Regions from separate parts of the Homo sapiens genome. Here region 1 is linked to region 2. The links come from fine-mapping of genetic effects on gene expression. A gene starts in region 2. The other region holds a variant in brackets. All regions are shown on one strand. Distances are from middle to middle. Region 1 overlaps NOSIP (nitric oxide synthase interacting protein). Region 2 holds the start of NOSIP (nitric oxide synthase interacting protein).

Region 1 (4,381 bases), 26 kb before region 2:
AGTTTGTATTTTTTTTTAGTAGAGATGAGGTTTCACCGTGTTGGCCAGGCTGGTCCCAAATACCTGACCTCAAGTGATCCACCCACCTTGGCCTCCCAAAATGCTGGGATTACAAGTGTGAGCCACTGCGCCTGGCCCGTTTTTATTTTTTTATTTTTATTTTTATTTTTATTTTTATTTTGGGACAGAGTCTCACTCTGTCGCCCAGGCTGGAGTGCAGTGGCGCGATCTTGGCTCACTGCAACGTCTGCCTCAGGTTCAAGCAATTCTCCTGCCTCAGCCTCCTGAGTAGCTGGGACTACGGACGCATGCCACGACGCCCGGCTAATTTTTTATATTTTCAGTAAAGACAGGGTTTTACCCTGTTAGCCAGGATGGTCTCAATCTCCTGACCTCATGATCTGCCCGCCTCAGCCTCCCAAAGTGTTGGGATTATAGGTGTGAGCCACCACGCCTGGCCCGTTTTTAAATCTTTACAAGTAACTGTAATTTTCTGGACGCGCTGCCTGTGAGCTTCTTGAAACTGGAGCCCTCGGCAGGCACGCCTGCCATCAGCGCCACCAAGCCCAGGTCTTGCTCTAAACTTTAGACCAGTGTCTAAGGAAACTCTGCTCAAAAAAGACAAGATTTGTCTCACTTCCCGTCTCTTTCTTCTGCTACGGCTGAAGCTGTGGTTCTGCTCTTGCTTCCTCTCCAAGTACTTTAGAACCTTAAATGACAGAACAGGGTGAGGTGACTCAAATGTGTAATCCCAGCACTTTGGGAATCTGAGGCGGGTGGATCACTTGAGGTCAGGAGTTGAAGACCAGCCTAGATAGCCGGGTGCGGTGGCTCACGCCTGTAATCCCAGCACTTTGGGAGGCCGAGGCGGGCGGATCACGAGGTCGGGAGATCGAGACCATCCTGGCTAACACGGTGAAACCCTGTCTCCACTAAAAATACAAAAAAGAATTAGCCAGGCATGGTGGTGGTCGCCTGTAGTCCCAACTACTCGGGAGGCTGAGGCAGGAGAATGGCGTAAACCCGGGAGGCAGAGCTTGCAGTGAGCCGAGATAGCGCCACTGCACTCCAGCCTGGGCAAAAGAGCGAGACTCCGTCTCAAAAAAAAAAAAAAAAAAAAAAAAAAACCCAGCCTGGCCAACATGGCGAAACTACATCTCTACTAAAATACTAAAAATACAAAACAAACAAACAAAAACCAGCTGGCTGTGCTGGCAGCACCTGTAGTCCCAGCTACCCAGGAGGCTGAGGCAGGAGCCAGGATCACGCAAGTGCACTCCAGCCTGGGCAATAGAGCAAGGCTCCATCTCAAAACAAAAAAAAAAATGACAGAACAGATTGGAGCCAGGACTTTGACCTCCCCACCCTGCACTGCACAAAGAGTCTGTGAACAGAGTGGTGTTTGAGTTCCTTTGGGAAAACACAGGTGCAAGATTAGAAACCCTTCAGGTTATTACTGGGGGCACCGGTGATCTGTTCAACATATGAACAAGACTGGGGTTCTTAGATGGCTGAGAAAGCTGGAAGGACTCGGGTGGTTGAGAGGTCTTGAGAAAGAGGACAAGGATTAGGGATGTGGAAGGAAAGGGTATGACATGGAACTCTGGGTATGGAGGGATGGGGTGGGAGCTTGTGGAGGTGGAGAGGCCAGTGGGTCTCTAGGGGAGGGAGGACATGAAGGATGGGGGAAGTCCAGGACAAAGTCTGGGGGCGTCTCAGAGGAAACTGGCTCCTGGGGGAACCTGGCTTCCGTCACTCCCTCGAGCACGTGTGACTTTGCTCAAGTTGTGCCTTCTCGATCATGCCATTGCACTCCAGCCTGGGGAGTGGAAAAGTATTACTCACTGAACAGGATGGTGCATGCACTGTGATTCACTTTGGTTGAAACCTCATGTGTACTCACATAAAGAACAGGAAGGACAGAACCTAGGTGGCATTGCTCTGCGAGGCAGGAATGCTGTGTTT[T/TTTG]TTGTTGTTGGTGTTGTTATTGTTGTTTTTTGAGACAGAGTCTCACTTTGTCGCCCAGGCTGGAGTGCAGTGGCACGATCTCAGCTCACTGCAACCTCCGCCTCCCGGGTTCAAGCAATTCTCCCGCCTCAGCCTCCCGAGTAGCTAGGATTACAGGCGCCGGCCACCACACCCGGCTCATTTTTGTATTTTTAGTAGAGATGGGGGTTTCACCATGTTGGCCAGGCTGGTCTTGAACTCCTGACCTCGTGATCCACCCGCCTCGGCCTCCCAAAGTGCTGGGATTACAGGCGTGAGCCACCGCACCCGGCTATCTAGGCTGGTCTTGAACTCCTGACCTCAAGTGATCCACCCGCCTCAGATTCCCAAAGTGCTGGGATTACAGGCGTGAGCCACCGCACCCGGCCTGTCTTGTTTTAATCTTTGCTTGTCTCCGTGCTGTTTTTCACACTGCCCAGCAGCTGCTTTTGTGACTCAATGGTTATTAAACACAAGGCCTTAAGGACAGCCCCTACATTCCCAGTCAAGTCTGACGCCACCGGGCTGGTTCCTGGTCCCCGCTCTGCCCTGGCTCCCTCACTCTCCCCTGTACGCCCTCTGCTCCTTAAATCTGCAAAGTGCGTTGCTGCCTCTGGGCCTTTGCACTCGCGGTTTCCTCTTCCTTTCCCCCTCAGGCTGCCACAGGTGGGGGCGTGATGCTCCTGACCGCCTTTCCTAGTCCGGGTGCTGCGCACTTTTTCACAGAACTGCACTTCCTTTGTGGGTCTAATCACACTGCAGCCCGGAAGACACGTTCCTGGGCATTTCCTGTTCTTCAAACCTGGCAAAAATCCGGGAACCCTAACAAAGAACTCGAGAAATTTCTATGTAGCTCATTAAAGTGGCGCACTCACACGGTCTTGGCTTAGACTTGGACTTCCGGCCACTCAACCAATTTTAATGCTGTGCATTTGCGTTCTATTCAGGTTTTTTTTTTTTTTTCTTCTTTGAGATGGAGTCTCGCTCTGTTGCCCAGGCTGAAGTGCAATGGTGCGATCTTGGCTCACTGCAACCTCCGCCTCCTGGGTTCAAGCGATTCTCCTGCCTCAGCCTCTGGAGTAGCTGGGAATACAAGTGCGCACCACCATGCCCGGCTAATTTTTGTATTTTTAGTAGAGACAAGGTTTCACCATGTTGGCCAGGCTGGTCTCGAACTCCTGACCTCAAGTGATACGCTAGCCTCGGCCTCCGAAAGTGCTGGGATTACAGGCGTGAGCCACCGTGCCTGGCCAGATTTTGTTCTTAATGTGAGACCACATTCAATATGCTTAGCCCGCTCTTTCAAACTCCAGCGTGCGCTGTAGGAGCACTGTTTGCACGGCCCTGCATCCTCGCCTGCCCTGTCCCCGGGGCGCCCACGCCGCGAATGAAGGCGCCACGTCGTTGCGCACCCAAGCCGGTTTATTTGGTCTCCCGCACACACTCAGGCCTGCATCACCGGCCGTGATTTCTCCGCTTGCAGCTTCACTCCGGAGCCCGCGAAGCCGGTACCGCCCTGGGGGAGGTAGAGAGAAGGACGAGGTAGAGGCCGGCCCGGGGGTGACCAGTGGGGCTCCAGGTGGTAGTGGGGATTCCTAAGCGGGTCAAGGTGAAGCGGGTTGCTGGCTAAGGAGTAGGAGTTGGGGAGGGGGCGAGGCGACCGCAGTGGGTACGGATGGACAGGGCGCAGGGCGCAGAGAAGAGGGTAGAGAGTGGCAGGGGAGGAGCCTTGGGAGGGAGCGTGTGGAGGGGGTGGAGCCGTGGAGGGCTGGAGGCAGGGAAGGGGCGGGGCCTTGAAAAGGAAGGAGGAGGCGGGGCCTAGGAGAGCGGAGGGGGGGAAGGGCGGGGCCTTGCAGGAGAAAGCGGGGGGGGGGGGCGGCCTTACAGAGCAGAGAAGAAGGCGGGGCCTTGGAGAGTTGGGGGAAGGGGAGGGGACGAAGCCTTGGAGGGGGTGAAGGGGAGGGGCGGGGCCTTGGAGTGCTGGGGGAAGGGGAGGGGTGGGACTCTTACCCGCTGCAGCACGATGATGTCGCGGTCTGTGAGTTTGTCTCCAGTCACAGGGTCCACCATGTCCTTCCGAATCAGCTTCTCCACGCATTCGAGGGTGACCACAGCCCCACTACGGTGAGGCCGAAGGCGGGAGACTCTGATCAGGGGCCTTCCTGGGGACCTACTGGCCCCAAAGCCGGACCGCCCCGCAGGTTCCCGAGTGGTCCCTTCCCTCCCCTCCCAGGTGACTCACGAGGGCCGCAGCACAGCGCAGGGGGTGGCGTTGCTCAGGCTGTCGCGGGTCACGGCACACACGTAGCGCTCGCTGCGGGTGATGAGCCCCACGCGGTCCACGGAGCTGTCTAGCGGTGTGAAGTGCACGGGCGTCAGGTCCGACATGCGCAGGGGC
Region 2 (4,381 bases):
GGCTCACTGCAAGCTCTGCCTCCCGGGTTCACGCAATTCTCCTGCCTCAGCCTCCTGAGTAGCTGGGACTACAGGTGCCTGCCATCATGCCCGGCTAAGGGGTTTCACCGTGTTAGCCAGGATGGTCTTGATCTCCTGATCTCATGATCCGCCCGCCTTGGCCTCCCAAAGTGCTGGGATTACAGGCATGAGCCACTGTGTCTGGCCTATTTTTAAATACTTAAAAAAAAAAAGAAAGAAAACAGAAGCAGGTAAAATGAGACCACAAAAAAGCAAACGGGACAAATTCAGATGGTGGGATGATCAACTGAACTAGAATTAGTTTCTTCAATGAATCGATTACACCAAGAAATAACCAAAGTGGAGTGGAAGGGGGAACAGTTCTAAATTAAGAGAGATGTAAAAGACGATAGCAATTACTTAACTATATCCTGATTCCAACAAACCCACAGTTACACTGGACTTGACTCTGCACCACGTAATGGATAGTAGTCTAGAATTACGGTTGTTCTTTTAAAGTGTGATGATGGTATTGTGGTCATATCAGCAATGTTTCTGGTTTTTACACACGCACCCTGTTAGATAAAATTTATAGAAGGTCATTGGTTTGGATTGAGCTCCTGCACTAGGTTCAACAGACCAAACCAAAATGGAGACACTCATGCTAAAGTTCCATGCTTCCAAGCCAAAACTAAGTTGATATCTGATCTTCTGAGATATCAGGAGAGAGATAATAGCCAAATCCCCAAACAACCCAGTTTTAGCCCACCTGATAAAGGAAGTCCCCTCTACTTTAACCTTTAACTTAGAAATTTAATCAAGTTAATCAATTTAATCAACTAGCTTTTTGTTTTCCGTTTCTGATTTTCTCAGCCCTTTGTCTCTGAAAACAACCTCTGCTCAGCTCATCGGAACACTCACGCTATTTTCCATAATTAGATGTTGTTTGATTGTAGATTCACGAATAAATGCCAATTAAGATCTTCTCACTAAATGTGTTGCAATTTTGTCTTTTGACAATCCTTAAGTGTCATGATGCCTACGATTTGTTTTAATCTCTTTAAGTTTAAAAAAATACAGCAAGTATGGCAAAAATAATCATTGGTGATTTGGGTGACAGGAATTCCTGTATTCTTCTCTCACTTTTATATAAGTTTGAACATTTTCGTAAGAAAACATTAACATCAAACTGCCTCAAGGACCGTTCAAGCCCCAAGTTCACAGAATTAGCAGCACAATCAGAATGGGAATCCATGACTGCCTGACCCCGAAGCTCCACACAAGAAAACGTGAATCCCTGCACCAACCCCGAAAGGGAAGGGGCTGTCAAAAAGGTGAAGAGAAGGTGGCGATGGATGACTGCACAATCTAGTATCGCCCGCCGTCCCACCACAGTCTGAGAAACTGAGGCCAGGAAAGGAGTTCTCCCTCCTCAACTCCCACTCCTTAGACCCCCAGCAATCCCAGTCCACTCCTTCCCTTGGGACCACCAGCAAATAGCCATCATCTACAGCAGAACTGTAACTCTCAGGAGAACTGGCCGATGCTAGCTACCACTTGACTGAGTTTATAGTGAGAGAGAGAGACAAAGAGAGAGAGAACTGCCCGATGGACGGTTGGCCACCTCCAGCAGAGTGTAGTTCAGCTTCAAACTTGGGGCGCCCGGACAGCTGTATTAATAATGATTGACAGGGAATCGGGAATCCAAAATCTTGCCCCAGTCTCCCTCAAGACCCCAGGCCTCTAGCCCGCAGGAAAGCGATCCCAGCAACACTCTTCCTGCACCGCCTCGAACTCACCTCACTAACGACTCCCAGTCCCTCGGTCGCTTCTTCAACTGTGCCCCGACACCGGAAAGGAGCACTATTTTCCCCCTCCGCTCCGCCCACTTCCGCCCAGCAGAAGGCACCGGAAGTAGAGCTGCCCCTAGTTGCGGAAGTGCCTCGCCTGGCTTGCTCAAGTCCTCTCTTCTCTTTCTCTCTCCGGAAACGTGAGTAGCTAATCGAAAGTTCCGGATATTGAAACTGGTGGGAATATGGGGAACGCTTACTATGTACGAGGCATTTCCCAGGGAGATCGTTTTTTCCTGCTTGGTTCCCAGGTTTTGAGTCTCTCCAAGCCCAAATTTAAGGACTAATCACTTCCCCTAGAGATCGGGAAGCCCACTTTCCCAAATATATCATCCACTTTTCTTGCTGCATCTTAAAACAATTGAGAAGAGACAACTACGCTCCCATTTTACAGACAGAGCCATTGGGAAATTGAAAATCAAAGCCGTTCAAGTCGCTCTCAGGAAACAGGGATTTACTGCGGCACTGCCCAGCTGTCCCAGGGACTAAGGCATATCGTTCCCGCTAGTTTCTAGATACCTAGAGACCTAGATATTAATTTTTCTAGCTCGGACAGACGAACTCCCAGGGGAGAGCCAGAGCGGGTAGGGGTCGGGAGGGAGGAGGAGGGTCGAATCTAATCCCCCAGGTATCCCATGGTATTCGACACCTTGGCTTCCTCATGGAGCTCTGGCCTTTAAGTCCTTTATCCCAAGGTCCCTTTAAATACTTTGTCCCTTACCTGAGTCCCGCCCAGGGCAGGTAATGGCAAGTTCCGCCCACCTGCCAGAAACGGGGATCAGGCCTGGTTACCGGGAGTGGGGCGCCCCTCCTCCTTATCCCCTCCCCTCTTCCCTGTCCCCTTTCACAGCTGGCTGTAGCTGGCCAAGGAGTTCTCGATTAAAGAGGAAGGGGCAGTGCTCACATTTCTGGGCAGGTAAGTGAATGTCCCTGGAGGAAGAGCCTGGCTTGGGGACCCAGGCATCCTGGCTCCCCGCCCCTCCGAGACCCAGAAGTTTGGGGCTCCTAGGCCCAGGAGTCCAGGGCCCCTGCCCACTTAGGTCCCTAGACCCAATAATATAACTAATCCCCTGCCTCTGCCTCTCTCGTAATCTTTGTTGTCTGTGGGTGGATGTGACAATGAGCACAGAAAGAGGCACAAGTGGAAATTACCAGGAAGGGAAGACTCCAGATCACCAGTGGACATGTTTATAAGCATCTGTGTCAGGTGCTGTAGACACAGTGGGGAAAGAAAGATAAGCTGCCTGCTCCTTGCTTTCTTCTCTGGCGGACACTGCCTTCACTGAAATCCTGGCTCTCACACTTGCACACTGTGTGACCTTCGGCAAGCTATATTACCTCTCTGTGCCTCAGTTTCCTGTTCTCTATACTGGGGATAATAATAGGACTCCTGGTCGGGCGCAGTGGCTCACACCTGTAATCCCAGCACTTTGGGAGGCCGAGGCGGGTGGATCACTTGAGGTCAGGAGTTTGAGACCAGCCTGGCCAACATGGTGAAACCCCATCTCTACTAAAAATACAAAAAATTAGCCAGGCGTGGTGGTGCGCACCTGTAATCTCAACTACCCGGGAGGCTGAGTCAGGAGAATCGCTTGAACCCAGGAGGCAGAGGTCACAGTGAGCTGAGATAGCGCCACTGCACTCCAGCCTGGGTGACAGAGCGAGACTCTGTCTAAAAAAAAAAAAAAAAAAAAACTCCTGTGAAAAGTTTTGTTTTGTTTTGTTTTTGACATGGAATCTCGCTCTGTCACCCAGGCTGGAGTGCAGTGGCACAGTCTCGGCTCACTGCAACCTCTGTCTCCCCTTTCAAGTGATTATTCTGGCTCAGCCTCCCAAGTAGTTGGGATTACAGGCGCCCACAACCACGCCTGGCTAATTTTTGTATGACTCCTGTGAAAAGTAAAATGAGTTGAGGCCGGGCACAGTGGCTCACGCCTGTAATCCCAGCACCAGCACTTTGGGAGGCTGAGGCAGGCAGATCACTTGAGGTCAGGAATTCAAGACCAGCCTGGCCAACATGGTGAAACCCCATCTCTACTAAAAATATGAAAATTCACTTTGGGAGGCTGAGGCGGGCAGATCACGAGGTCAGGAGATCGAGACCATCCTGACTAACACAGTGAAACCCCATCTCTACTAAAAATACAAAAAAATTAGCCGGGCATGGTGGCCGGCACCTGTAGTCCCAGCTACTCGGGAGGCTGAGGCAGGAGAATGGCATGAACCTGGGGGGTGGAGTGTGCAGTGAGCGGAGATCACACCAATGCACTCTAGCCTGGGTGACAGAGCGAGACTCTGTCTCAAAAAAAAAAGAAAATTAGCGGGTGTGGTGGCGCATGCCTGTAATCCCAGCTACTTGGTAGGCTGAGGCACGAGAATCGCTTGAACCCAGGACACAGAGGTTGCAGTGAGCTGAGACTGTGCCACTGCACTCCAGCCTGGCTGACAGAGCGAGACTCCATGTCAAAAAAAAAAAAAAGTAAAATGAGTTTATATAGGTAAACAGTATCTGGCACAGAATACAGGCTGTG

Evidence for each region. PIP is the estimated chance that this variant, and not a neighbour inherited with it, causes the effect.
Region 1: its variant is the best candidate, but not a certain one, in a credible set for the expression of NOSIP in testis (GTEx, PIP 0.53).

What each region holds. Positions count from the first base shown.
Region 1 is chr19:49,552,324-49,556,704 of GRCh38, forward strand. It overlaps NOSIP (nitric oxide synthase interacting protein), which reads right to left. Exons shown (of 9, transcript NM_001270960.2): 7 at 4,226-4,381; 8 at 3,994-4,102; 9 at 3,145-3,499. The coding sequence ends at 3,428. Among named protein-coding and RNA genes, the nearest start is that of NOSIP, 26 kb to the right of the region's middle. RefSeq lists an enhancer at 3,729-4,381. The variant T/TTTG (reference allele first, on the strand shown) is at 1,966.
Region 2 is chr19:49,578,716-49,583,096 of GRCh38, forward strand. It overlaps NOSIP (nitric oxide synthase interacting protein), which reads right to left and starts at 1,841. Exons shown (of 9, transcript NM_001270960.2): 1 at 1,800-1,841. It overlaps PRRG2 (proline rich and Gla domain 2), which reads left to right and starts at 2,601. Exons shown (of 7, transcript NM_000951.3): 1 at 2,601-2,766.